Linked DNA regions of Homo sapiens. The protein of the gene in region 4 purifies or fractionates together with the protein of the main gene of each other region. This does not show direct contact. Each region holds a gene or a part of one and is shown on either strand. Other genes may lie near its edges.

Region 1 (7,939 bases), on a different chromosome or scaffold from region 4:
TTTTTTGAGACAGAGTCTTGCTCTGTCGCCCAGGCTGGAGTGCAGTAGTGCAAGCATGACTCACTGCAGCCTTGAACCCCTGGACTGAAGCCATCCTCCCATCTCAGCTTCCAGAGTAGCTGGAGCTACAGGTGCATACCACCACACCTGGCTGATTACTGTCCTTTGATGCCTGATTTCTAGTGTCATGAAAATCCTTGTTTTAAGTGTTTTGTCCATTTTCTTTCTCTTTTATTTTCATTGTTTCAGGTAAGAGAGTAAATCTGGTCCTGATCACACCATCTAGGCTAGAAGCAGAAATTAATTTGCTTTTTCTTTTTGAGGCAGAGTCTTGCTTGCTCTGTCACCCAGGCTGGAATGCAGTGGTGTGATCTTGGCTCACTACAACCTCTGCCTCCTGGGCTCAAGTGATGCTTCCACCTCAGCCTCCCAAGTAGCTGGGACCATAGGCACACGCCACCACACCTGGCCAATTTTTGCATTTTTTGTAGAGACGGGGTTTTGCCACGTTGCCTGGGCTGGTCTTGAACTCCTGAGCTCAAGCAATCTGCCCGCCTTGGCCTCCCAAAATGCTGAGATTAACAGGCATGAGCCACTACACCTGGCCAAGAGAAAAGGAAAATTTATTGTTTCATGTAACCAGATCTCTCTCTCATTTTTCTCTTTCTTTCTCTAACAGGTGTTGTGGCTGTTGAGCTGAAGTCTCACCATCATAGCTTGTGTTGTAAAGCAAGGAGCAGCAAGCTACGGGTCTGCAGGCCAAATTTAGCCTGCTGCTTGTTTTGTAAATAAAGTTTTACCGGCACACAGTCATGCTCATTTGTTTCTACATTGTCTATGGCTGCTTTCTTGCTATAATGGTAGATGCAGAGACTGTAGGGTTCATAAAACCTGAAACATTTACTCTCTGGCCTTTTACAGAAAAAGTTTACCCGCCCCTGGTCTAAAGGAAAGGACAAGAAATTCTCTCTCCCAGTTTTAGTATGAAACATTCTTTTTATTTTTTATTTTATTTATCATTATTACTATCTTTGAGATGGAGTCTTGTTCTGTTGTCCAGGCTGGAGTGCACTGGTGCAATCTCTGCTCACTGCACCCTCCGCTTTCCGGGTTCAAGTGATTATCCTGCCTCAGCCTCCCAAGTAGCTGGGATTACAGGCATGCGCCACCATGCCCCGCTAATTTTTATATTTTTAGTAGAGACGGGGTTTCACCATGTTGGCCAGGCTGGTCTTAAACTCCTGACCTCAAGTGATCCACCCAGCTCGGTCTCCCAAAATGCTGGGATTACAGGCGTGAGCCACTGCGCCCGGCCTTCTTTTTCTTTTTCTTTTTCTTTTTGAGATGGAGTCTCGCTCTGTCACCCAGGCTGGAGTGCAGTGGCGCCATCTTGACTCACTGCAACCTCTGCCTCCTGGGTTCAAGTAGTTTTCCTGCCTCATTCTCTAAAGTAGCTGAGATTACAGGTGTGCACAACCACACCCAGCTAATTTTTTATTTTTATTTTTGGTATTTTTAGTAGAGACAAGGTTTCACCATTTTGGTCAGGCTGGTCTCGAACTCCTGACCTCAAATGATCTGCCCGCCTTGGCCTCCCAAAATGCTGGGATTACATGTGTGAGCCACCACACCCAGCCAGTATAAAACATTCTAAATAAGTTATCTGCTGAGGGAGCAAGATTGTTTGAGACCAGGAGTTCAAGACCAACCGGGGCGACATAGCAAGACTCCTTCTCTAAAAAAATTTTTTTAAATTAGCCAGATGTGGTGGCATACACCTGTAGTCCCCACTACTGTGGAGGCTGAGATGGGAGGATTACTTGAGCCTGGCAGTTCAAGGCTGCAGTGAGCTATGATTGTGCCAAGTCACTTCAGCCTGTATGACGGAGCAAGACCATGTCTCTAAAAAATAAATAGATAAATGAATACATAAACAAATAAGTTCTCTGATTGGCCTGGCTTCAGTCACATGACTGAAGGGGGATGAAGTGCTGCTAGGGTCTTGGGTCACATGTCCACCCTGGTGCCAGCCCCTCTAGAATCCTATGATCAGAGTGGAGCTGGAGCACAGACTCACAGGGCATGGGGCTCAGGAGAGAGAGAAAGCGAGGGCAGACGAATACAAGGACTGTCCACCAAAGGCACGATGACCTTTGTTGTACATTTGTAAATGTATAAGAACAGTAAATGGAAATTTCCAGGAGGCAAGAAGAGAGAGCAGATGTGGAATTCTCAAATGCTATGTCAGATCGCCATGGGCAGATTGTCAAGAGAAATGTTTGGGAATCTGTCCCACACTCAGGAATAAAAGATGAGAGTGGAAGAGAAAGTTTGGTCAGGTGATCCTGCCAGGGGACACAGAGGACAGGCACTCCTTCCTTCACTTTAAGCCTGTGAGGGTGGCTTCCAAGGGATTTCTCAGAGAGCTCAATATTTGGCACTCAATTTGGAGGGCACAGTGGCAGGAAGGGCTCATGTGCTGTTTCAGAGGCAGAGCTATGCTGCTGTGCTGGGACCCACCTGTTCACTAATGTTGGGGCGAGGAGTGTGCCAGTGTTTCCTGAGGACAGATGTGAGCTGGGTGGATGAGCAAGCACAAGACCCATGGATCCATTTAGGTCCTGTCCAAAAGTCCCTCAGGAAGGGCAGAGGGCCCCTCCCCTCCACAGCCACCAGGTAAGCATCCACCCAGTGGCACATCTGCTTGAGTTAAGGGGACTTCAGGAGACAAAGCAGCAGGGAACCACCGAGGAGCCCATGAATGTTCCCAGGAGAGACAGGGTCAGCTTTACCCTCTGCCAATCCAGATGGGATTGGAGCCCTTCCCCACTTCTCCCTTTCTCCCTTCCCGGTGGTGGTTCTAGATGGGTGGAAGTGGGCTGAGCGAGCCGAGGGAGGTTTGGGGAAGGAGATGGCACCAGGCACAGCCCCCTTTCCCCTTGCTCATCTCAGGCCCTAAGGGGTCCAAGGGGGAAGATTTAACTTTGATTTTGAGCCAGGTGATCTGCTCAGACTTTTTAAAAAAAACTTTTAAGGTGTCATACACAAATAGTAACATGCAAATATTTAGAATACAGTTTGATGAATTTATACACATTTACAGACCCAACGTTACAAAACGGCTGTGCTGAAGATACAGAATGTTCCCAGCCCCCTAGAGGCCTCTCCTTGTGCCTCCTTCCAGTTGATACCCCAAAGGCAACCAGTACTCTCACCTCTAACGCCAGATTGTTCTCACCTGCCTTTAAGAAATGAAGGTATTATATATACATACACACAGTGACATGCACTCATCTTAAGAAGACAGTTTGAAGAATGTTTACTTATGCGTGCTCCCATGTAACTACTACCCAAATCCAGGCATAGAACATTACCAGCAGCCCAGAAGGTTCCTCCTCTTGTTCCAGTCAACAACTCCGGCATAGGCAGCCACTCCTCTTCTTCTTCTTCTTCTTCTTATTATTATTACTATTATTAAGACGGAGTCGTGCTCTGTTGCCCATGCTGGAGTGCAGTGGAGCGATCTTGGCTCACTGCACTTTCGCCTCCCGGGTTCAAGTAATTCTCCTGCCTTAGCCTCTCGAGTAGCTGGGACTACAGGCGCGCGCCACCACGCCCGGCTAGTTTTTTGTATTTTAGTAGAGACGGGGTTTCACCGTGTTGCCCAGGCTGGTCTCGAAGTCCTGAGCTCAGGCAATCCGCCCACCTCGGCCTCCTAAAGTGCTGGGATTACAGGTGTGAGCCACCGCGCCAGGCCCACTCCTATTTTTAGCTCCAGAGATTAGTTTTGCTTCAGGCTCCCTTAACGTCCTGCTTCAAACCCCTATCTGCCCCTTCATCGGCTCCACCTGGAGGCCACCGCTTCCACGGAAGCATGACCCCTTCCCCTGCACCCGCGCGCCCCAGAAGCTCTCAGATACCCCCACGATTTCGGTGACCTTCCGCAAGCTCCAGGAAAAGCCCCTCCTCTCCTGACGCCAAGGGTTTGTTGGGGTTGGGGGGTATCTCCATCAGCCTCCCTCCCCCAGCCACCCAAATTAACCAACAATCTTAGTAAATGCAGCGACTCGCTAGGCAAACCCAGCCTGGAGACAAATATCCGGCCCCTTTCCTACCAAACTGTCACACCTAGGCATTGGTCTGCAGGGAGGGCTGGACAGTGGAAACTGAAACCCTCTGCAAGCCATCACGAATCCACCGGGCACTGGGGACGCTGGCTCCCGCCTTGGCAGCATCCCCCAGAAGCCTGGGCCCTGACCCCACACCGTCTGGGCCTCAGTCTCTCATCGGTAAAGTCAGGGGTAGGGCCCGAGTCTTCCAGGACCGCTTCGAGCTGGGACAAGCCGTTTTAAATAGCCCACAACCCGCCGAGGCCATCAGAGCTGCGCCTGCCGGGCCGCCCTCGACCCCCACCTCGGCCGGGCAGGTCCGAGGCCCCGCAGGCAACATGGGCCCGCGGACTGCGGGACGGGGCTCGACGGCCTGAGATCGCGACTCTGCCTCTCCGATACTTGGGGTCGTCTTCGGCCCCGGGATCCGCGACGCGCGCGGTCGGACCCCGAATACTGAAGGCACCGGGTCCGCAGGGCGAAGGCGCACACGCCCACCAGGCGCGCTCTGCGCATGCGCGGGCTCCGCAATCTCAGCGGCCCACTCGCCCCGCCCCGCCCCCCCCACCCCCACCCCGCGCCGCTCCCCAGGCCCGGCCCTGCCTTCCCAGCATCCCGGCTCCCTACGGCAAGCGGCGAGGCCCGAGCCCGCCGGGAGCAGGGAGCCGGGCGCGGGGCGGGGCGGCGCGCTGAGGTCAGCGCGGCGGCGGCCGGCCCCGTAGTGGTTGGCTGCGCTGGTGCTGGCCGCGCCCTGGTTGGCTGCGGGCCGCGGGGCTGGGCCGCCGGGTCGGGGCTGGGGTCGGGCTCGGGCGCCGGCCGGGCTTGCGCAGCGCTAGGCTCCTCGCCGCTCCTAGTCTGCGGCGGCGGCGGCGGGGAGGGCGCGGCCGCGGGCGGGGCTGAGGGCGGCGGGGGCGGGCCGCCCGAGCTGGGAGGGCGGCGGCGCCGAGGGGAGGAGAGCGGCCCATGGACCCGCGGGGCCCGGCGCCCCAGACTCTGCGCCGTCGGGACGGAGCCCAAGATGTCGGCCTAGGCCGGGGCGCGACGACGCGGACGGGGCGGCGAGGAGGCGCCGCTGCTGCCGGGGCTCGCAGCCGCCGAGCCCCCGAGGGCGCGCCCTGACGGACTGGCCGAGCCGGCGGTGAGAGGCCGGCGCGTCGGGAGCGGGCCGCGCGGCACCATGTCGGCCAAGGTGCGGCTCAAGAAGCTGGAGCAGCTGCTCCTGGACGGGCCCTGGCGCAACGAGAGCGCCCTGAGCGTGGAAACGCTGCTCGACGTGCTCGTCTGCCTGTACACCGAGTGCAGCCACTCGGCCCTGCGCCGCGACAAGTACGTGGCCGAGTTCCTCGAGTGGGGTAAGTGCGCGCCGGCAGGGCCGGACCTGCGGCTCTGCGACCCCCGCGCCCCAGCCCGCGCATCCCCACGCCCGCCCATCCCCGCCCGGACAGACCCTGCCGCCCTCCTGCCCACCCAGCTCGTGGGCTTCGCCTCCTCTCGCTCTGGCAGCGCCCCCAGGCCCGCAGCCCATCTCTCTCCAGCCGCTCCTTGCACCCTCGTCCCTCCGCTAGCTTTTCATCCCTCCTTGCCCTCCCTAGGCTCGACATCCGCGTTCGATCGTCCCGCCCCCTCATCCTGCCCCTTGGAGCCACATCCTACGTTCCCACTCCCACCCCCTCCCCCCCGCCGGGCCCTCGCCCTGGCGGCTTCCTAGATCCACCCTCCGAGTCTGGATATCATTTCCTGCAGCACTCACTGGGATATCCGCCCCCGCCCCCGCCCCCGCCCCCGCACCTCGCCTTTGGGGTCCGGAGGCAGTGTGGAATTAGTTCCCTTTCCCCACCCCACGCTTCTCTGCGTTGTGGGGGCAGCTGGGTGTGCTTTCTGCATCTGCCTCGCCCACTGCCCCGTGGGACCCCCTTGCATCCCCAGGGAGCCCAGCTCTAACGGCCCCTCCTGGGTGACAGCCTGTCTACATCCCCTTGTTGGTCAGAGCCTGAATACCTACTTTGCTGTAACACCTTCAAGGGAATTTTAAGGTTAAGGCTTTATTTTAAATAAACCGTGCAAGAGGACTTTTTTTTTTTAATTCCAATTCTGCTAGACCTTTGTGATATTTGGAGGGGTAGCTGGAGCTATCACTTAGAAACTTTCTCATCTGAATTTTGCATGCCTTCTCTAGTTCGTTCCGGATCTATAATGTTTTAATCATTGGTCAGCTAACCTATTATGCTTTTTTAGGACAAAAATTTGATTAAACCATTTAACGATAATTAGGATCCTAAAGACAGGTAAAAGTGCAGCGTGAAACTCTTTTACTTCATCTCTCCCTAACGGGTGTGCCGGTCAAGACCCTCAGACTGTCTCACCTAAAACCACTGAGTAGGAGGAGGAAATGCGTATGTTCAGGCCAAACCTATGAAAACCTTATCCTTGGGTCATTTGCGTCACTGGGCTAGGACTGTTCAGTTCGAACCAGTAATTTCTAATCTTTGGGGCTGATAAAGCTGATATTTATACGAAGAAACAAATGAAAGTGTTCCACAGTGAGGCCTCCAGGCCTCCTACTCTACTCTGCCAGATTGGTGACTGGAATTTGGAATTTTGTTTACAAATAAAACTTAAGTTGCAATATTCTTTAGAGGGCTTCTGTTGGATTACTCTGTAGTGAAATGTTACACGGTATCTTGTGAGAGCAGCAGTAGAAAGAGGTCCTGAGATCAAGGACAGCCTGTGATGCTTTATTTCCGTGGGAACCACCATTCTTGGTTACTTATAGTATCAGTAAATTAAGAGTATTTGCTTTCTAGCGTCCTTTGTCAGTGACACGATTTCCAACTGAATAATTAATTGACTTCACCGTTGCTTTGAAAGTGAGGTCTTTGGTGCATGTTAAAATCTGAATATTTTGTTTACCTTTTCTTTCTTTTCTTTGGAGACGAGTCTCACTGTGTTGCCTAGGCTGGAGTGCAGTGGCATGATCTTGGCTCACTACAACCTCCATCTCCTGGGTTCAAGTAATTCTCCTGCCTCAGCCTCCCGAGTAGCTGGGACTACAGGCACGCACCAGCATGCCCGGCTCATTTTTGTATTTTTAGTGGAGAAGGGGTTTCACAGTGTTGGCCAGGCTGGTCTTGTACTCCTGACCTCGGGTGATCCACCTGCCTCGGCCTCCCAAAGTGCTGGGATTACAGGCGTGAGCCACTGCACCCAGCTTGTTTACCGTTCCTTTCTGATCACTCGATCTTGAAACCCACACAGTTCCACTGTCAGGTTCAACTTGGTGCACCACCTGTGAGTGTGACTGGGAAGAGGAAGCAGAGGGAAAGTTGGTTTTGCTGGGAAGATGTGGTCCCACTGGCCTCTGGCCTGGGACCTAGAAGATTAGTCTGAGGGCGGGGGCCCTGGGGGCCATTGTGCAGCCACCTCTCTCCACCAGGCATTACTGGTGGGCTTCCCTGGAGGAAGCTCTTGTCAGCATGTGTGGAGGTCATATTTTATGAGATCTGGCCTTTCCAAATCTAAACGGGAACTGTGCTGTAACATAGACATATTTTCAAAGTTGTATTCTGGCTCTTTGGAAATTGTGATTACAAACTACATTATTCTCAGGAACTCAGTTTGCACAAAAGTATAAACTTTCAATTATAGGGAAGAATGGACTTAGAAGGTGGTGTTTTAATGAAATATCAATATATTTTACAAGTATTTAAACTCATTTATGTTAACATATACGTCATTGTAACTCTAAAGTGGTGTATTTCTAGTTAACATGTGTGCAGTTAGTATTTAATGTTGCTTGGAATTGCCTGGTTGTTTCGATTGGAAAGCACAGA
Region 2 (7,260 bases), about 120 Mb from region 4:
GATTCTCATGCCATATAACTTGTGTAAACAAAGCTCCAACCACTTGTCCAGTTCCTCCTGAACAGACAAAAGGTCCCCTGGGTATAGATCCTCAGAAAGGAATAGGAACAGCATATGAAGGTCATGTCAGGGTAAGTATGATTAAGTTGGGTTTAGATTAATCCTTTAAGATTTATTAATGAATTAAAATCAAATCCAGTTAGTTTAAGAGGATAGTTCTTGATGGAAAATTAAATGAATAAAATTCATCTAATAATTTTATTTCATCTAGAATAATGATTTGCAAACAAAAACCTAGCTTTTACATGGAAATAAGTTATAAAATGTCTCAAGTTTTTCCATATTGTTCCTATCTTGTGATGAAATCTTCATAAAGGAGTTTGTGGCCCCTGCTCTTGCAAGAGAGGTGGCATATGGTTATGAATTATGAGCTATTAAGGCATAGTCTTGTTATCTTGGGTAGTATTTACAATGTAAGCTGAACTTCATCTTACACCAAGTTTGACTTTTATGCTATTTAGAAAGAAACCCATGAGTGTTATTTTAATGAAATATGAGTGAAAGTTAAAATGGTACCATTAAAATGTTTCTCAGAATAAAAAGTCATTCTGTATTTGAAGAATGTGTTCTCACATTTTCTCATAGCTTAATGATATGTGTCTCATCTGCTACTTTACCAACCAGAATGGCAGACTTATAAAACGTGTACATTATCTGTAGGTCTTCACCATGCAATTACATATGTAATTTAAGGGATATTTTCATTTGAGTTGTTTTGGCTGTTTGTCTGTCTAAAACAAAACTAAGATTCCTAAGCCAGCTGGAGTGAAGAAAGGGTGGCAGAGAGCACTGGCTATAGTGTGTGACTTCAAACTCTTTCTGTACGATATTGCTGAAGGAAAAGCATCTCAGCCCAGTGTTGTCATTAGTCAAGTGATTGACATGAGGTAAGAGTTTGAAGGTAAAATTATTTGTATCATTGCAACATAGGAATTTTAAAGTTTCTGATTTTCAAAAATTGTGTTGCCATGGTTTATTTAAATGAACTAATTTCGTATTTTCTAATTTGCTAATATTGCTATAGAAACAGAATTGAAAATAGGAAGTAAGGTGTATTTATAGGACAGGTTGGTATGTGTGTTGAGTGTGAGGGGCTAGGAGTTAAGGAAAAAGAAGTTGGTGTCCCAAAGACCTGTGTAAATGGGGTAATGGAGGCCTACCATGTGAAGTTTATATTATCACATCACCTAAAGGCTTAGAGTATAATTTCAATGTGAGGAAAGAAAATAAAAATCAGAAAGGCTTCTGGAAAACATAATCAGTAAACATTTAAGTAAGTACAGCCCTTGAACACTTCTGGTCTCATTTTTCAGATTCTTCCTGTGTTCCTTAGTTCTCTCTCCTTTACCTTTTCTCCTAACTCCAGGCACTATCCTTGAGTGATCATATTTACTCACAGCTTCAGCCATCTCCTCTGCATTGATGACTCCCAGACTTGTATCTCCAGTTCAGATATATCCATCCATTGCTCAAAACCGGAATTTCTAGCTGTGACTCAAATTGGCACTTCACATTGGCATCTCAAACGCATTATCTTCCCCTACAAATATGGAACATGACAGGATAGATGCAAGAAATATTGGCAAGAAAAATCTGATAGAACCTACTAAGGGACTGAATATAGATAGGGAAAAGAATCACAAATAGGACTAAGGTGTCAAGCCTGTAAGACTAAGGGAGTCATGGTACCAACAACAAAATTAAGGGAATCACAAGAAATTATTGTGGAGGAAATACGTTGTAGATGTTGAAGGAACAATAAAATATAACATGAGCTGGGTTGAGGGTACTTAAGATTTATTATGGGAGGCAAGAGGGTCCACTGGAGGCTCCAGAGACCTACCAGGGTTCAAATCCCAGTTCTACGTGTATACTTAACTGGCCTTGTGACTGTGGGTAAGCCAGCAATGATTTCTAGCTCTTGTATAATGTGCCACTAGGAAGTTATTCTTGATAAATTATTTGGGGCACTATTAATTACAATGGGGGAAAATTAATTTTTTTAAAAAATTAAATTTGGGTGTTTGGTGCAGTTAAGCTTTGGGTATGTGTTATTTGGATACACACCCCAAACCACACACACATAGCCACATATAGTAACTTTTAATGCTTTGCTTTTCGTTCAGGGATGAAGAATTTTCTGTGAGTTCAGTCTTGGCTTCTGATGTTATCCATGCAAGTCGGAAAGATATACCCTGTATATTTAGGGTAAGTGTGTATGCTGTAATTTGATCACTGAATTATGTGTTTTTAATGAGTATATTTTGCCTCCCTATATAAATCATAAATTCACTATAAGTAAAACCAAATCTTATATTCTTTTATATATTCCATATCATCCAGTACTTGAAGGTATAGAAAATTGGTGCTAAGTATTTAATTAGTGAAAGACCTGGAGAAAGCATCAATATATGGCTTATAAAATATGCTTCCTGGTAGATAATATTTTTTAGTTCCAATTCAATTTTTAAATAAATACTACCACATGGAAAATTAGATAAGTGTGAGGTTTCTCAAGTTTTTAAAAAAATAAAAATGTCTGTCTTGAAAAATTAATGCGTTTGTTACTTACTGCTTTGTAACAGCCATTCCAAAACTTAGTAGCTTAAACCAACAGTGATTTACTATTTTTCACTATTCTGTGGACCAGCTGTACAGTTCTTGTGGTGTCCGCTAGTGTCACTGATGTGACTGCATTCAGCTCATTTGGGACCAGAACATCTAATGACCTTGCTCTTACATCTGGGTGCTGGCTGTTAGCTGGGTGATCTCAGTTCTCCTCTTTGTGAACTCCCTCCATGTGGTCTCTGGTCGTCAGGTAGGCTGGCTGAGCTCCCAGTGGCTGGCTTCTAAGAGAGCAAAATAAGCTGCCAGGCCCTTTGAGGACTAGGCCCAAAACAGGTATAATAACCCTTCTGCATTCTGTTGGTCAAAGCAAGTCATGAGGTCAGCCCAGATTTAAGGGGAGGGGAAATAGACTCCACCTCTTGATGAGAAGAATGGAATTCCTTAGGAGGACTTGTTGGTAGGCGTCTTTGGAGGCCCTTGCCACGATGCAATCTTGAGTGGGTAAATTAAGACAATAGAGGTTAAAAAAAAAAACTACTGCCCAATTGTTATGCCTATCTCCCTATATTTGTCTATGAATCTTGTATCTAAGGAAGGTCAGGCAAAGATTATACTTAGTCTCTTAGTTCCCAGACTGACAACTATTTATTTTCCTCCCAGCCACCAAGGGAGCCTACAGAGGCCCACTTATCTATAACTGATTTTCATAGTGTGAGTTTATTGTCACTGCTACTTAATAAGGAATTCTTTACTTATGATAAGGAATTCATATAGGTAAAATTTAAAACTGCTCTGATAGTGTTGTTTGTATAATGATAAACCTTCATTTAAATATTAATTTAAATGGTCAAATCTTAATGATAATGCGAGTTATTGTTGTGAAGTAACAGAGAATATATTTCTGAGCACTTCTGACCTTAAAACAAGTCACAAGTCAGTATGGTGTGGCGCTTAAGAGCATGGGCACAAGATCCCAGACTTGTAGTTGTATGTCCTTGGAGAAATGATTTAATTTCTTTGCATCACCATTTTTTTCATATATAAAATAAGGATATAATGACAGTACATCCTAAATCATGACGATGTTAACAGAGTTAAATGAGTTAATACTTGTAAAGTGCTTAGATCTACCTGGTGCTCAGTATTTACTCAATAAATGTCAGTTGTTGTTGTTGTTGTTATATATTTAATGCCTCTTTAGTGATAGTGTTCTGGCACTTTTACAGAAGGAAAATGAAAATGATACTAACATTTCAAATGGTGTCTGCCACCTTTGCTTTGTCATGTATTCTAGTGCTAAAGGTAGTTATTCTGATTAGGAATAGCTGAACTCCAGTAATGGTATCATTTAATGAATGCTTATTTTATTGGTGAGTGCTAAGCAAACTAACATAATCATGAAACTAGCATAAAGGGTGTCTGTTTTCTAATATCATGAATATTGATTAAATTGTTCTAGGTCACAGCTTCCCAGCTCTCAGCATCTAATAACAAATGTTCAATCCTGATGCTAGCAGACACTGAGAATGAGAAGAATAAGTGGGTGGGAGTGCTGAGTGAATTGCACAAGATTTTGAAGAAAAACAAATTCAGAGACCGCTCAGTCTATGTTCCCAAAGAGGCTTATGACAGCACTCTACCCCTCATTAAAACAACCCAGGCAGCCGCAATCATAGGTATGAATTTATAACATTTATCATATTATTATCATTGTTTACTAATCTACCTTGAGAACAGGGATTGGCTTTCATCTAGGAATCCCCAGTGTCCAACATACTGTGCATCATATCATAAATGCTCAGTACATGTTTACTGAATGAATGAGACCTATATCAGATCTTTGTTTTTCAGTAAACAGGAGTATAAATACACTTTCAAAGTGCCTTTTTTTTCCTGAAAAAACAACAGTGCTAAGCATTAGCCTACTAATCTATTTTCTGCTTGTGTGATTTAGAACAAGTTAGTTTCTTAGAGTTTAATATATAAAATACAGATGGTAATTACCTTGCTGAGGTTATTGGGAAGTTTAAATAAGATGGAATACATAACACAGAGTGCCCTGCATAAGAAAGAAATCCCCTTAACAAATGGCAGTTTCTGTGTCTGGAGGTTTAAATTTTTGCTGTATTCCTGTGTATGCATCTAACTCTTTTGTTACTTTCCATAAATACTGAAAAGTTCAATGAGTATGGTTCAAATGCCATTCACAATTTTTACCTCCCAAAACAATAAGTGTAGAACAACTTAGGTTTTTCATTTTGTTTCATCATTTATTAAACATTTACTTCTTTTTGTAAGTATTGATATGGATTATTCTTTAATAATTGTTCTATTTTAGAAGACATGAGAGATTTACCAGTATAATCTGAAAGGAAATAGTGTAAACTGTTATTGTAATTCATTTTATTTCCATTTTTTGCACCAAATGTTCTTATCATCTGGTTTATTAGCATTACATGGTTTTTTTCCTAATAAAAATCTTTCACATTCATGTCTTACATAGATCATGAAAGAATTGCTTTGGGAAACGAAGAAGGGTTATTTGTTGTACATGTCACCAAAGATGGTAAGAGAAAACTTTTTTTTTTTGGAGTAATTTTAAATCGTGTTAAAAAAATTTAAACTGTAGATTCTAAATTCTACAAAGAGCAGGATTTGCTCTTATTTATCCTGCGACTAAAATTTTCCAGACCTAATTTGACGTTTATAAATTAAAAGATTATTTTTAAATTTCTATAATCCCCCTGAGGTTTAAAACTTCAAATATGTATTGTCTTTCTTGTATCATTTTATTTAACAGTTCTGTACGAACTCAGATTGCATTTCTTTTTTTTTTTTTGGAGACAGAGTTTCACTCTTGCTGCCCAGGCTGGAGTGCAGTGGCACGAACTCGGCTCATTGCAGCCTCCGCCTCCTGGGTTCAAGAGATTCTCCTGCCTCAGCCTCCCAGTAGCTGGGATTACAGGCATGCACCACCACGCCCGGCTAATTTTGTATTTTTAGTAGAGATGAGGTTTCTCCATGTTGGCCAGGTTGGTCTCGAACTCCCAACCTCAGGTGATCCACCCGCCTTGGCCTCCCAAAGTGCTGAGATTATAAGCATGAGCCACTGCGCCCAGCCCAGATTGCATTTCTAAAGATGGAACATGAAAAAAAATATATACAACTTGATTTTCACATTGTTCTATTAGTACCAGAAGAGGCAACAGCTATTAAAATGTGTTTGTTTGGAGGTTTTTCTTCTAGGGAAAAACTAAATGCTGGGTGAAATAAAGAGAAACCAATATAACTTGGTATTCATAAATACAGTATTCTAAGTTTTATCTTTATGTCAACTTAGATCATGGGAAAACAATGCATTGTTAGCCATATAAAAACTTCTGAAAAATAAGTTCTCTGTTTTTAAAAATGGGAATCCTATGGTGACGTTCCCTAGAATTTAGTGCCAGTAGAAAAGTTTCCTTGAAGATTTGGCATACTTTTACACAAGAATCCTTTGGGGTTTGCCTTGGCTGCCAGAAATCTCAGGACTCAAATTTAATACGTACTATAGGTGAGTTAAATTATCTTATGATGGGTTGGATAATCTTTTTTTCCTGTGACTTCTGATGTCTTATTCTTCCGTATGTGCATCTGTAAGTTGACTTACATCCTTTTGAGTATAATTGGGATATGATTAATCAATAAAACTATATTTTGATTTATTATTCTTTCTGTGTTTAGAAATTATTAGAGTTGGTGACAATAAGAAGATTCATCAGATTGAACTCATTCCAAATGATCAGCTTGTTGCTGTGATCTCAGGACGAAATCGTCATGTACGACTTTTTCCTATGTCAGCATTGGATGGGCGAGAGACCGATTTTTACAAGCTGTCAGAAACTAAAGGGTGTCAAACCGTAACTTCTGGAAAGGTGCGCCATGGAGCTCTCACATGCCTGTGTGTGGCTATGAAAAGGCAGGTCCTCTGTTATGAACTATTTCAGAGCAAGACCCGTCACAGAAAATTTAAAGAAATTCAAGTCCCATATAATGTCCAGTGGATGGCAATCTTCAGTGAACAACTCTGTGTGGGATTCCAGTCAGGATTTCTAAGATACCCCTTGAATGGAGAAGGAAATCCATACAGTATGCTCCATTCAAATGACCATACACTATCATTTATTGCACATCAACCAATGGATGCTATCTGCGCAGTTGAGATCTCCAGTAAAGAATATCTGCTGTGTTTTAACAGCATTGGGATATACACTGACTGCCAGGGCCGAAGATCTAGACAACAGGAATTGATGTGGCCAGCAAATCCTTCCTCTTGTTGTAAGATTCTCTTTCTTACGGCTGTCTTATCTTTATATCTCTTCTTCCTTTTCCCTTCTACTTCGTCTCCCAAATGTTGTCATTGTTGATAACAGTTTTTTAAAAAAGTCATTCTTAATGCTTTTCCTCAGTATTGATTATGTTGTTGATGTAAAAACCATATGTAGTTAGGCCTGGGCAAACAGGGCCAGCATTAGCATGCACGTAATTTAAACAAAACATCTTTCTGTGGAATATTTCACTAAGATGGATTTTTTACCCCACATCATATTTTGAAATAACCCAGAATTGTTATCTCATGGTCCCCCAAAATAT
Region 3 (7,260 bases), on a different chromosome or scaffold from region 4:
CACAGTTTACTAAAAATATGTAGAATCCCTCCTTTTTAGACTTTACGCTTCTCAGAATAACTTAAATAACCACCCAAGGTGAAAATCTTAATTAGGCAAATTTTTCGTTTGGAGATTGCCAGTAACTATGGATGAATGAGTAAAGAAAGTTATTTTATAATAAAGTTCAAATTATCAAAAAATTGAAGTTCTTTGCATATAAATGTTGAGAAATATGTAATCTTGTACAAAGAGTAAGAATACTATTACTGCTAGATTTCACTCTGTGAATCTTGATAAATGTCATCATCAATATCAACAATGTATGAGTCCATTGGCCCAAAATGCCATCTGCCACGATCTATCCCTGCCGTCTCCCTTCCTTCCTATATGTGGTCTTCAAGTTTCAGCTTATATGTAATTTCCTTAAAGAAGCTTCACAGTTTGAAGTGTAGTCTCTGTTATGAGCACCCACAGTGTGCTACAATTTTTCTTTATATCTTGAGGATAGGAGGAGTGCCTGTTTTGTTCACCACTGTTTCCTTGGCACTCTATATAGTAGTTGGCAAATAGTAAATACTCAACTAATATTCAATTAATATACATATAAGTTGTTTTTGTTAAGTCCACATTTATCTAAACTATTGGGATCCAAATGTTATTTAATGGATTTTTATTTAGGTAATAATTTTGCTCTTCAGTTTACCATGGGCCTGTAGGGTTATACATTAAATTTGATAATTCTGTCATTTAATATAGCTATATTGCTGTAAAATAAAATGCCAAAATAAGCCACTAGGAAGTAGGTCAAATCCAAAGGTGATAACTCTTATTTTTGCTGGTTTATATTCATGGATTCATTGAATAAATATTTATCGATTTCTGATAAGTGGTGTGGTTTTTCATTATTTCATGATTATTTTAGTCTAAATGCTGAGCATTTTGTCTTCCTGTCCTAATCATTTTCCCAAGTGATTTTGTATCTACATAAGCCAAGAACCACCCTTCAATATGGACCTCAAGTTGGTTATGGCACCTCAGAATTTGATATACACATAGGCCAAATTTTTTTTCTTTCATATTTAGCAATGGAAAACTTTCTCCAAGTCCTTCTAATATAAACAAGCATGGAGGTGGAAGTAGGGACTTCACACCATGAAACATCACAGTGTCCCAATTAGTCAGACATTCAAGAGCCTGGAGATAAACAGCATCATAATGTGAAAACAGATTGTTATACTGCTGTTACTTTTGCCATTATGACCTTCATAAGCCTTTCTAGAAATGCACCTAGAGGGAAGTGGTTAGAAGACATTAAATGGAAAACATCAAGATTTTGGAATTGTATTTAGTACTATGATAGGCAGTGAAAGAACCTGTATTTAGGTTTCAACACTAGCATTTCATGACCAATTGTGGTCATTTCTCTAAGATATATTTCTCACAAGCAACTATAGGTTTCTATAGATATACACTGGCTGAAAAGGAAATAAAGTTAAATAGGAAAATATATCATCAAGAGCATAATTTGAAAAAGAAAACATTTATTATAGTTTACATTGTAAAATCTAACTGAAAAATTTAACCTAAAAAGTAAAACTCTTCATTAGTTTAATTAATTAGTAAATTAATTAACTGATTAATCCATAGTCTTGTTTTACTATTTTTCTTGTGTACAAGTTTGTTTTATGATTTTCTTCCCAGACCTATCCCCATATTTTCAAAAATACTTTAAAAAATTTAATCCTAGCTACCTTATCATTAATTACTTTCAAGTAATTGAATTATAATTATTTCTAGAAAACATTCTTATTTGCTTTTCTGATAAGCCTTAAGTTTTCTGTTTTTAATAATGGGGCACATTAGCAGTGAGAAACATTAGGATTACCCTGAATACTTCATTTTTTGTAGCAAAATTTCAGCTCAGTTACAGAAATTGTCCTGTAATTTTTCTTTAATCTCCCTTTAAATTGAAGAATTAAAAAGAAGAGATGAGACCAACAAAGAGGAAAACAGAACTTACGGCAAATGAGTAATACAGGGAACAGAGGATGTTTTAAAGAATATCATTAATACCCTTTGAGAGATAAGAGAAAATATTAAATCCACTACATTTAACAAGAGCAAAATACTATGAAAAAGGGACACAGACTAAGCGGTGTCAGAATTTTAAAATATGATTGCCATAAAGAGTAAAGAAAACCAGAAAGGTGGAAAACAATGTGAAATAACCACAAAGAAAGGAGAAGAAAAAGAAAAAGAATGAGACAATAGAGAGAAAAGATAAAATTTTTAGAAAAGCAATTCAGGAGGGGCAATAGATGATTCATGTGCGTCTTGAGAGAACAGAGAAAACAGAACAAGAGGCCAGGAGTGGCCAGGCCCACCCAACAAACACCCACTGCACAGCAGCCATCCTGAGATTGTCCTTCACTCTTTTCCTATATTGATGCCCGTGTGCCCAGATCCTATACCTTCCTCTTTCTTGTTTCACTCTTTTCTTTTATGAGAGTAATGCAGGACAAGCAAGCCCCAAAATTGAGGCTTAGTCCTTGGCTTCACCCAGGGAAGAATTCAAGGGCAAGCCGGTGGTGTTAGCAGCAGTTTTTATTGAAGCGGCAGTGTACAGCAGCAGCAGAGGTCCTGCTCCTTGCAAAACAGGCCTACCCCATAGGCAGTGTGCCCAGAGCAGCAGCTCAGAAGCAGTTCTGCACTCACAGTTATAACCACTTTTAATTATATGCAAATTAAAGAGCAACTTATGCAGAAATTTCTGGGATGAGGGTGGTAACTTCCAGGTTGTTGGGTTTTCGCCAGGAAAATGGCGACAGGTGTGTCGTGTTGCCGTGGCAATGATAAACTGACAGGCACACTTGTGGACGTGTCTTATGGAGAGGTGCTTCTGCTTGAGACCCATTTTAGCTAGTCCTCAATTTGGGCAGGTGTCGAAGCCCTGCCTTTGGAGTCTAGTCCCACCTCCTACCTCAAGAGCACACCAAAGAAAAGGAGGTGGGAGGCCGAGGTGGGCGGATCGCGAGGTCTGGAGATCGAGACCATCCTGGCTAACACGGTGAAACCCCATCTCTACTAAAAACACAAAAAATAAGCCAGGCGTGGTGGCGGGTGCCTGTAGTCCCAGCTACCCGGGAGGCTGAGGCAAAAGAATCGCTTGAACCCGGGAGGCGGAGGTTGCAGTGAGCCAAGATCACGCCACTGCACTCCAGCCTGGGTGACAGAGCAAGACTCCATTACAAAAAAAAGAAAAAGAAAAAGAAAAGAAAGAAAGAAAAGGAGGTAAATATTTTTAGTGTTTGTATTTCTAAAAGTAGATTTATTCCATTATATAAAATTCTAGTTGAAAATGATTTTCTCTCTCTGAAGTCATTGAACAATTATCCTCCAAAATCCAATGTTGTTGTTGAAAAATCCTTCATTCGTAGATAAAGACTGTCACTCCTTTGAAGTCATCTTCTGCGCCTCCTTCCTACCCTACCACATCCTTTCTACTCCTCGCTCCAGGAACTTTTAGGATCTTCTCTTTCACCCCAGTGAGTTTGTGATGATGTGCCTCAGTGTGGGTCTTGTTTTATTTATTCTTCTAGCTACTTTTTATCTGGACACTCATGTTTTTCAATTCTGCCACACTGAAGGAAGAAAGGAAAGATTCTATCCAGAAAATTTGCAGGAAACAAACAAAAAGCTAATAGATATCTGATACGATTGAACACTTAAAAAAAAAAAGACTACTAGTGGACATATGGCAGATCTAACTGAGCACTTAGAAGCAAGATGGTCACAGAGAAAGAGCAAATAAAAAGAAATAAAATTAAAACAAGAGTCAATTAATAAACCCAGGAGGAAAAAATGAACAAGAAGAGAAATGTCATAGTATCCTTACTATGTTTTCATGAGCCATATTTAGTCATAATAATGTAAACAGTCATATAACTAAAAGCTCATATGTAACTATATTGGGAGTATGGGGTGAGGAGAAGGGGGTGGGTGTGGATAATGTCTAAAAATATAAATCAGAAAATAGCAATATAGGCTTCTCCATGTTTTACAAAAATGAAATAAATACAGAAAATAAAACTGGAAGAGGTGATCATAGCTGACTCTGGGGAGTGGGATTGTGGAATTCAGAGAGGTAGGACAAGAAACTCCTGTTTTTCTATGTAACCCTTTGGTATTATTTGATATGTGTATATACACTGGCTAAAAATGATTCTTACAAAGACAAGTGTTACTGAGAAAACCCCAGCTTTAATGTCTGACTAGTAAATGTCTAATTTTTTTGTTAAGTCTCAGGTGGAACATGAAAGCTGGGGTTTGGAGTTTGGAGCAGTTTAGATCTGTATAGAGATATAGGGAGTGGATAGTCATAGGTCCTTAGGCAGACATGAGTTTCTGGGCCCACAGAACAGTCAGCTCCTTACTCTAGTCAGAATTTGTACTGAGTGAGGCCCTTTCGTTGAAGCTGTAGATGCTAAGGCATTCATTCTGCTGACTTAGATGCCCTGTCAAACTGTGACCAAACTAAAGCATAGAATCATTGACCGTGGAAAAAACAAAGGAAATGGGAAAATACTGCATAATTTGTGGTCTCTGAAGTGATCCAGCATTAATGAAAGTTTGTTTTAAGAAGTAATTTATGTCAGCTTTGTGTAGTTCAGGTCAATTCAAGAAAAGGTAGATTCCTTCTGCCAGGAAGAAGGGAAGAAATGTATAAATTGTAAGTTTATATTGCCATTGGAAATAGGAACACAGAAATCCATTATTTAAAGGCATGATCACTACCAAATTTATCCTGGCCTGCTGGAAGTTATGGCCGTGAGTCAGGACACTCTTTTAGAAGACTTGGATTCCATTACCTTCAGCCTGTAGACAGTGGGGGCTTAGTAAGGGACTCATAATGTCAGCTTTTGAAACTGTCATTTTTGCTTTTCAAAAGTGGCAACTGACCACTAGTCACTATGTATAGCTCCTTTTAGACTAAAGGAACACAACTCCAGGATACAGCCATCACATCCCAGGACTGGGACCAGACCAGATTTCACTGAGGTCCATAGTAATCTGATGACTTCTAGAAATCTCTAGTTTTTTAAGACTAAAATGTTTCATCTTTGTGGAGTTGGTGTCTCCAAACCAGATTTTAAAAATAAATGCAGATTGTAAATTTCCTGTAAATCTAAAACTGTTTGAAAACATAATGTTTGTTAAAATAAATAAGCCCAAAAGGAAGGAATTGTTATTCTTCATGGGGAAAATATGTTATCTAAGGATTAGTATAGGAGTTGAAAGTGAATCTTACAGATAATTTGATATTCTTAGAAAAGCAGATTAATGAAAGATGCTTAAAAATACTATTTCACTTTCTTACCTCAGTTTACATTGCTATAAAAAGAAAAGTTAGTATTCTCACTTTGTGTTTTGAGGTGCCTCTAATGGTAGTTTAAGTCCGTGGGGTGAAAAATAATTTATCCACAGCAAGAATAGCACACTATTTTCACTTCTGTGTTATACTTCAAGGTCTACCCGGCTAACTGTGAAAAGATGCTTCATATGTAACCTGTCCTCAGCCTTATAGAGTAAAATGCCAAAGATTAATGGCAATGAAAACACTAGGACACTGATAAAGGCAATAAAATTGTTTCTTGTCCATTAAAGGATTTAATTCTATGAAAGTGCAGTCTCTCTGTCTCTCTCATTTTACAGGTTTATTTTATGTGATTACAGATTTATTTTATGTGACAGTGGTTCAGGTATTTTTTACTGATCGGTTAAACGCCGGATATTTTTAAATAATTGAATTCTGGTTTTTGCAAGTTGACAAGGTACTCTCTAGAGGCGCTCCAGAAACCAGCTAGAAAATCCCCAGTTGGCTGTCATCTTAAAATCCCTCACCTATATTCAGTTGTTCAACCAGTATTTACTAGGAGGCTGTGTACCATGTCCAGTGTTCAGTTCTGGAGTATACAGCAGTGAACAGGACAGGCAAGGTGATGTCATGGAGAAACAAGTAGCGAGCAAGTAAACAAATCATTTAAAATGGTGATTGGTGCTATAAAGGTGAAATGATAGAAGGTACCAGGAACAGGAGCACTCCTTTAGATTGGTGATCAGGATCTGCCTCCCTGAGGAGGTTACAGCTGAAACCTGAATGGCAAGAAGCAGCAGCTGAGTTGAAATTGGATGGGAAGCATCTTCCTGATAGTAGGGGCAAAAAGTACAAAAGCTCCAGAGAAGAAAGGGCCATGGTCTCCTAGAGATACGGGCTACTGAGCGAGTGAGTGAGAGGGTGCAGCCACAGTCAGATGTGTGGATTTTATTCTGAGTTCACTGGGCGACCATTAAGGGCAGGATGAGGGAGTCATGCAGGAGAATGACGTAATTTGATTGACTTTTCCGAAAGGTAACTGTGGTTGTGGTGTGGAGAAAGGATCGTAAGGGAGCAAGAAGAAAACAGAAAGGGAGACAATGGTGACTTGGGGGCTGATGAGAGTAATGGGGATGGTGTGAATCAGGACTCAGGTGAAATTGATAGGGAGAGTCATTAGAGCTCGCTCTTAAACTGAATGGATGGATCAGACAGGACAAAGGAAGAGAGGAACCACGGTTTGAGAAACTGGGCAGACGGGTATATCATTTTTCAAGTTGGAGAAGAGTAAGGAATGAGCAGGCATCAGAGAGTAGAGATAAGGAGAGAAGATTTCACACAGACAGTTGGATATAGGCATCTATAGCTCAGACGAGGAGTAGGAGATAGTAAAAGAACAGTAAACACAAACTCCAGGTCTACTTTCAATAGACTAGAAGTTGTAATAAAGAGGATTCCATAAAAAGGAGCCCTTAAGATTTCTGCCTCTAAAATTCTTTGCGAGTGTGCAAGTGTGTGTGCGTGTGCACGTGCACACCGGTGTGGTTTATATCATTGTATCCTGACGAAGCACACATTTTTTACTCTCAGGTATTCTTCAAATAAAATAAAAAGTTTAATTCTCGTGTTTTTTTTAAATGTCATAAATTGAGTGTATTTATTCTTAGCTTGGAGGTCTGTTAGTCCATGTGAAGTTTAATTATAGAAAACTCGATCAAATACCATGATACATTAACTACCTTCTGCAAAATTAATTTTTTAGGCCAGTTTTATATTCACCTAGGTTTATTTTTCTTTTTCTTCTTACCTTGCCAGCATTTACCAAAAGAACTGTTGCTCCAGATTCAGCTTCAAACAAGGAAGATGCCACAATGAATGGAACAAGTTCACAACCCAAAAAAGAG
Region 4 (7,000 bases):
TCACTATGGCTTGGCCGGGGCGGCAGAGCCAACTGGGCTAAGAAGGCAGGAAGAGTGTTGAAGCCAAGTCTGAGAACAGCTGAGAGAGGACAGGTGTTTGGGAGGGAGAGGCAGGCTGAGAAGCGCTGGGTTTTCAGCAAACAGGAGTTTCCTGGCCTCCTTGTCTCCCTTCTGACCAGTCAGATATGAACAGCAATTGCAGGAAACCCCAGGCCTACCCTTTCTCTTGGGGAATCTGAGCTCTTCCTTTTCCACTAATGCCCTTTTCAGCCCTTCTTCACTGTCCTGTAGAGGACAGAGTAGCCTTAAAGTCCAGCTCTGGGTGCAGGCAGCACACACCTGTGGTCCCAGCTACTCAGGAGGCTAAGGCCAGAGGACTACTTGAGGCCAGGAGTTAGAGGCTGCCGTCCACTATGATTGTGTCTGAGAATAGTCACCACTGTGCTCCAGCCCAGCAAACAGCAAGACCCTGTTTGAAAAAAAAAAAAAAAAGCCTAGCTCCACTGCCCACTGCCCAGCCATCTCGAGTCTCGAGGTAGTACAGGAGGTTTGGGCATTCCTTATCTGAAATGCTTAGGGCCAGAAGTGTTTTGGATTTTGGATTTTCGAATATTTGTATATATACAATAAGATATCTTAGGGATGGGACCCAAGTCTAAACATGAAATTTATGTTTCATATACATCTTATACATACAACCCAAAGATAATTTTATACAATATTTTAAATAATTTTGTGCATAAAAGAGTTTTGACTGTGTTTTGGCTTCCGCTTGTCACATGAGGTCAGGGTAGAATTTTCCACTTTTGGTCACGTTGTGGCTCAAAAAGCTTTGGATTTTGGAGCATTTTGGCTTTCAGATTTTTGGAGTAGGGATGCTCAACCTGTATTTGGTAGTTAGGACTATGGCATCTGGAGTGGGACAGTACCGTGTTTGAGTCCCAGCTCTATGACCTGTGTGACGTTACGTAAGTTACTTCACCCCTTCCAGCTTACTCGTTTGTTAAAATGAGAAAATAGCAACCTCATACGGTCTATATAAAGATGAAATGAGATGAAGCACATAGAGTCCTTAGCACAATTCCTGTTACAAAGCAGATTCTCATATTGTTTTTTCCGCCATCATCACTGTCATCATTTCAGGGAGGCCCAGGGAGGAAGAGCGCTCAGACTCAAAAAAGGATGAGGATGGGCACTACAGCTTTGTGCACTTCAAGCTGATCTCAGCCCCACCTCTTACTATCTTATCTTGGGCAAATTACCTGTGAAATGGGAACAGTAATAGTCACTACCTCATAGGGTAGTTGGGGAGATGAAATGTCTGTGTGTGTGTGTGTGTGTGTGTGTGTGTGTGTGTATGGGGTGGGGGAGCCTTCTCAGGACAGTGCCTGCCTTAGCTAGTTAGCTACCATTATTATTTCCTTTACCCAGCACTGATCTGCACTGCACTAGGCTATAGAGAGATGGGGCTGGTGGCAGGCTGGATGACCCTGGAAGTGTATGTTTGGGTGGGGGACCTAAGTTCAGGGCTGGGAGAGGCACTGCTGCCCACTGTGGCTCATAGGCCCCATGCTTTCTCTCTCCCCTGCAGATGTCCATGAAGGAGGTGGGTGATGGCTTACAGGATCAGATGAACTGCATGATGGGTGCACTGCAAGAACTGAAGCTCCTCCAGGTGCAGACAGCACTGGAACAGCTGGAGATCTCTGGAGGGGGTCCTGTGCCAGGCAGCCCTGAAGGTCCCAGGACCCAGTGCGAGCACCCTTGTTGGGAGGGTGGCAGAGGTCCTGCCAGGCCCACAGTCTGTTCCCCCTCCAGTCAACCTTCTCTTGGCAGCAGCACCAAGTTTCCATCCCATAGGAGTGTCTGTGGAAGGGATTTAGCCCCCTTGCCCAGGACACAGCCACATCAAAGCTGTGCTCAGCAGGGGCCAGAGCGAGTGGAACCGGATGACTGGACCTCCACGTTGATGTCCCGGGGCCGGAATCGACAGCCTCTGGTGTTAGGGGACAACGTTTTTGCAGACCTGGTGGGCAATTGGCTAGACTTGCCAGAACTGGAGAAGGGTGGGGAGAAGGGTGAGACTGGGGGGGCACGTGAACCCAAAGGAGAGAAAGGCCAGCCCCAGGAGCTGGGCCGCAGGTTCGCCCTGACAGCAAACATCTTTAAGAAGTTCTTGCGTAGTGTGCGGCCTGACCGTGACCGGCTGCTGAAGGAGAAGCCAGGCTGGGTGACACCCATGGTCCCTGAGTCCCGAACCGGCCGCTCACAGAAGGTCAAGAAGCGGAGCCTTTCCAAGGGCTCTGGACATTTCCCCTTCCCAGGCACCGGGGAGCACAGGCGAGGGGAGAATCCCCCCACAAGCTGCCCCAAGGCCCTGGAGCACTCACCCTCAGGATTTGATATTAACACAGCTGTTTGGGTCTGAATCCTAGAGACAGAAAGTTGACTGAGCCTGAAAGGGCCAGGTCCCAGTGCTGGGCCCCTGGGGAGGAGGGAGGGTGGGCGGTATGGCTCTCGAAAGCCCAACTCCAAGTTCCTTTCCCCCAGAAAGCGGGGAGAAGCCAGAGTTCTTGGCTCAGGACTGAAGGGAAGGTGGTTGGGAGAGGCTGTCTTGGGGGCTAGCTGGTGGAGGAGGTAAGAGTAGCTGGAGAGTGAGCTGTGCGTGTGTGTGTGTGTGTGTGCATGTGTGTGTCTGTCTGGCATGCATGCACTCACTTTGGGGCTGGAGGTGACAGTAGGTGAGGGCAGAGGAGGAGATCAGAAAATCCCTCTGACATCTCCACTGCCCCCAAAGACCTCCGTTGAACATTCTGTATGGAAAAGAGCCCTGGAGCATCAGGTTCCCCAGATAGGCCCCCAAATAAAGACCTGTCTATGGCTCTCCCAACCTTCTGTCAGCTTCTTTGGCAAGACATTGCTCCAGGCACAGGGACTGAACCCCAGGCCTCCTGGGACTGGAGCAGCAGTGAGGCAAAACCCGACCTGCTAGCCCTTTCTGCCTTGGAGGTTTCAGTCCATACCTGGACTCTGAGAAAATGAGCTGAATAAGGAGTACAGTGTGTAAGGAGCAGCCAGGGAAGCCCTAGACACTCCCCGCGTCTCCCCCATGCACAGGGGAAGGATGTTGACATAGCACTGGGCTGTTTGAATGCCTTTTCATCTCCATGGTCTCATTTGAAAGTGAGCGAGGCAGGCAGGCATGATCCCATTTTCCAGATAAGGAAACAAGCCTAGATATGCTACATGTCCAGGAACAACTGCAGCCAGGAGGCAGAACAGCCTAGGTCTAACTGCAGAGTAGAAGCTGGACCCTGGAGTTACCAACACTCCTCCCCAACAGTTCTTAGCACCCCGCAGGCTGGGCGCTGTGGCTCACGCCTGTAATCCCAGCACTTTGGGAGGGCAAGGCAGGCGGATTACCTGGGGTCAGGAGTTCATGACCAGCCTGGCCAACATGGTGAAACCCCGTCTCTACTAAAAAAATACGTAAAAATTAGCCAGGCGTGGTGGCACACGCCTGTAAACCCAGCTACTTGGGAGGCTGAGGCAGGAGAATTGCTTGAGCCCGGGAGAGGGAGGTTGCAGTGAGGCGAGATCATGCCACTGCACTCCAGCCTGGCTGACAGAGCAAGACTCCCCTGTCTCAAAAAAAATAAAAAAAAACAGTTCGTAGGGCCCCATACCCCACAACCCCTGTCTCCTGCACTTAACTCCCACCTGGGTCAGAGAACAGCCAATTCACCAGTGAGGTAGAAGTGAACCCAGAAGAAATAGCCACTTGATTTTAAAATTCCCAGCTCCATTCCGTGGCCTTCTCCCCACTAGACACAGCAGTCCCAGGCCTCCTGTTCCCTCCTCACCTAGAGGCAGCCGGGACGGAGGGGGAAGGGCCAGGCAGCAGCTCAGCTCCGGCTTCTCTAAAGCCACTCTGGGCACGTGGCCCAGGAGGGCCACCTAGTGATCCAGGCCCCCCCCCAGGACTGCCCTGGGAAGCCACTGTCCCTCCCACTCCAGTAGGGAACACTCACTGGCTGGGAAAAGACAATGTGGATCTTCTTTTGGGCTGACCAAGCCAGGAGGGCACACCCTCCCACTGCCCCTCTCTGCCTCCCACTGATTGTCCCTCAGCCTGATGGGGTGTGACAGCTGCAATTAGAGGCAGGATTCCTTCCCACCCTCAAAGCATTAATAGCCAGTTGGAGAGGCAAAATAGTAAGAAAAGGCTCTTCTGCTTGCTTCCTGGATCCCTGGGGAGAGTGGAGAGAGGGGCAGAGCTCAAGATGGGATTATGGGGGCGCAGCCGCGGTGGTTAGGGTCACTCTCAAATCCTACCCAGTCAAATGGTAAGATGTTTCATTTTTGGTGGGGGAGCTGCAGGAGGGAGGAAGGCGCTCATGCTTTTTGGGTTTTGTTGAGCACTCACTGTCTGTCAGGTAATGTGCACATCTCTCAAACTTAGAAGGACCCTAGAAGGCATTGTTCTCCAGACACATCTATGGAGGTTATTAGGGGGCGTGTAAACTGCCCCGATTAGGCTGCTAGCAAAGGAAAGGACAGAGATTTGAACAGAGGGTTGGGTTATCTGGCTCCAAAACCCCTGTCCTTTTCTTGCTATTTCTCTACCTGGAGTTTGCCAACTGAGCAAGCCCACTCTGGTGGAGCCAGCCACTGCAAATCCTTTGTGTCTTCCCAGAGAATACCAACATTTCAGTTTTGAGTGAGGGAACGTTGGCTCTGACTGCCTTTGGAGGTGGAGATGGTGGAGGTGGTGGTGGTGGTGGTGGTAGTGGTGGTGTGTGTGTGTGTGTGTGTGTGTGTGTGTGTGTGCCTGCGCGTGCTAAGAAACTGCATGTTAAGATTCCACCTACTGAATCATGAGCGGAGGAAGTCGTGGGACACTGGCTGGTGGAGAAGCCATCTAGCATATTATTCAAGATGACACCAGCTCCAAGTCTGGAATGAGTCTGTGGGAAACCAAGGTACTTCTTGGACATTCACCTATAACTCACGTGTTTCGTGGACTGGTCACAGTGGTTCGGATAAATTGAACAGAACTTTATGAACACCTCCCAGCACCAGGTGTTGTTATAGAAACTAAGAACAGAGCAATGAGAAGGACCCAACTCCTGCTCTCAAATGGATGCAGTGGAAAATAAGCAGACTTTGAACCATTGGTTAGTCAGAAGAGACTTGGGAGACTGAAAACTTGTTTCAACTTGGGCCAGAACAAAAAATTAGGAAGCAACACTTGCTGCCAACATGATTTACAAGTGCCAGCACCTTCACCTCTGTTACTTCCTTCTCACTACACACTGAAAGCAGTTGCTCTTGTTTTACATGGACAGGCTCAGAGAAGTTAAGCAACTTGTCCAAGGTCACACAGTAGTGGAATTGAGATTGAATCAGTTCCAACTGACTTGCAATCTTGTGCTTTTCAGACGATCCCACTAATTGTCCATATCTGTTCCAAAGCCAAATCAAGAGGAACAAGAGCAAAATCTGTCCTCTCATATTATTCATGGTCCTGCGTGGATCATAAATGGCATGCTGACTGTCTGATGGAGACTTACTTTTCCCTTCCCCCTGGACACCTGCCATGGCAATGACAGAGGCTGTATTTTACTGAAGTGGAGGGAAGAGGTGAATGCAAATGCCTAGGGCCTAAGTATACAGGAAGGTGTAGGGAGAGGTAAGCAGTGTGTATGTGGAGGAGATAGCAGACGTAAGCAGAGAGAAATCAGAGAGCTTAGTTCTTCCTCTGGGGCGCACTTTGTGGTTAATTAGGACATGCAAATGAGCTAGAAGCTCATTTAATATCCTCCCTGACATGTAGCCCCACCCCACCCTGCCCCACTTCCCTGGCAGGTACAAGGGCCACCTGATTGGCCCAGGTATCTGTGGAAGGTTCCACCTGCTTCTTTGTGGCCCAGGGAACAGAAAAGAGTCCCTGCTGGGCATGCTAGTGGGGCCGGCCTGGTCTCCCTCCTCCCTTTCTCTTCCCAACCTTTCAGACTTGGGACCTCTCTTTTCCCTCTCCCTCAGACACTTCCCTTGTGCCCCGCCCCTCAGGGTGATCTCTGAACCCAAACTTGCCCCAAAGAAGGTTGCTCTGTCCTCTCCACATCCCCATCTCCTCCCTAGGGCCTTGTTGGGGAGAGGCTCCTCCATCTTTCCCAAGTCACACCATCGTTTCCTACGTGGTCTGGACAAGAGCAAGAGCACACCTTGTCCCCACCTTCTCCAGAGCAGCCAGAACCCACCTCAGGTGCCTTCCCCATCCGGTGCAGTTAAGGCACTTCTGCCAGCACCATGGTATGAGCACTAGACTTGGAGTTAAGATTTGAGAGCCCCCTCTGTCACTGTGGAAGCTTGAGCATGTTGCTTGATCTCTCTGAACCTTGTGTTTCTCATCTGTGAAAGGTGATAATGTGGGGCTGCTGTGAGATTTAAAGGACATAATGCACCTACGGTCCAAGCACTGCCTGGAATACAGCAGAAGCTCAGCAGATACTGGACAACCCATCCCCTTAGTAGAGGCACTAACCATGTGACCCAAGGCAAAAGTGCTTAAGAAAAAGTGCTTTCTCTGAGCGTTGGTCTCTTCTTCTGTCGAAACATTTATATTGATTTAATATCTCACAGGATTGTAGCAAGGGTCAGAGAAGACAATAGGTGACATGTTTTTGTACACTGTATACTAGCCACCCAGATGGGCTGTTATTTGCTAAATGGCAAATTTACACTGTTCCCCAAAGGATGACATGCACTGGGGAGGCGGGGGGTGTGGAGGTGGAGAAAGGCTGAGCTTGGAGAAAAGGTGCTTGAGGACCCCACTGCCTAAGGACCTGCTCTAGGAAACATTCCCACTCCCTACACCCTAGCTGCCCCTCACAGTCAACCCTTAAGGACCTCAAATTCTTGGCAAGGGGTAAAGAGTTGAAAGTGCCAAGTCCTAGTGGTTTTGAGAAGCCTCTGGTCTGCTCTTTCTGCTCTGTAA

The links.
Region 1: the proteins of INKA2 (region 4) and CDC42BPB purify together in Homo sapiens (affinity purification with mass spectrometry; 3 studies listed by BioGRID and IntAct, with this or other methods). This does not show direct contact.
Region 2: the proteins of INKA2 (region 4) and CDC42BPA purify together in Homo sapiens (affinity purification with mass spectrometry; 3 studies listed by BioGRID and IntAct, with this or other methods). This does not show direct contact.
Region 3: the proteins of INKA2 (region 4) and CEP128 purify together in Homo sapiens (affinity purification with mass spectrometry; 3 studies listed by BioGRID and IntAct, with this or other methods). This does not show direct contact.

Annotation. Positions count from the first base shown.
Region 1 is NC_000014.9:103,054,521-103,062,459, reverse strand, and holds the start of CDC42BPB (serine/threonine-protein kinase MRCK beta), read left to right. Parts: upstream 1-4,910; 5' UTR 4,911-5,286; coding exon 5,287-5,461; intron 5,462-7,939. UniProt on the Homo sapiens protein: Serine/threonine-protein kinase which is an important downstream effector of CDC42 and plays a role in the regulation of cytoskeleton reorganization and cell migration. Regulates actin cytoskeletal reorganization via phosphorylation of PPP1R12C and MYL9/MLC2.
Region 2 is NC_000001.11:227,028,342-227,035,601, reverse strand, and holds part of CDC42BPA (serine/threonine-protein kinase MRCK alpha), read left to right. Parts: coding exon 1-131; intron 132-807; coding exon 808-947; intron 948-2,186; coding exon 2,187-2,268; intron 2,269-4,087; coding exon 4,088-4,304; intron 4,305-5,131; coding exon 5,132-5,194; intron 5,195-6,351; coding exon 6,352-6,945; intron 6,946-7,260. UniProt on the Homo sapiens protein: Serine/threonine-protein kinase which is an important downstream effector of CDC42 and plays a role in the regulation of cytoskeleton reorganization and cell migration. Regulates actin cytoskeletal reorganization via phosphorylation of PPP1R12C and MYL9/MLC2.
Region 3 is NC_000014.9:80,497,494-80,504,753, reverse strand, and holds part of CEP128 (centrosomal protein of 128 kDa), read left to right. Parts: intron 1-7,171; coding exon 7,172-7,260.
Region 4 is NC_000001.11:111,722,396-111,729,395, reverse strand, and holds part of INKA2 (PAK4-inhibitor INKA2), read left to right. Parts: intron 1-1,591; coding exon 1,592-2,428; 3' UTR 2,429-7,000. UniProt on the Homo sapiens protein: Inhibitor of the serine/threonine-protein kinase PAK4. Acts by binding PAK4 in a substrate-like manner, inhibiting the protein kinase activity.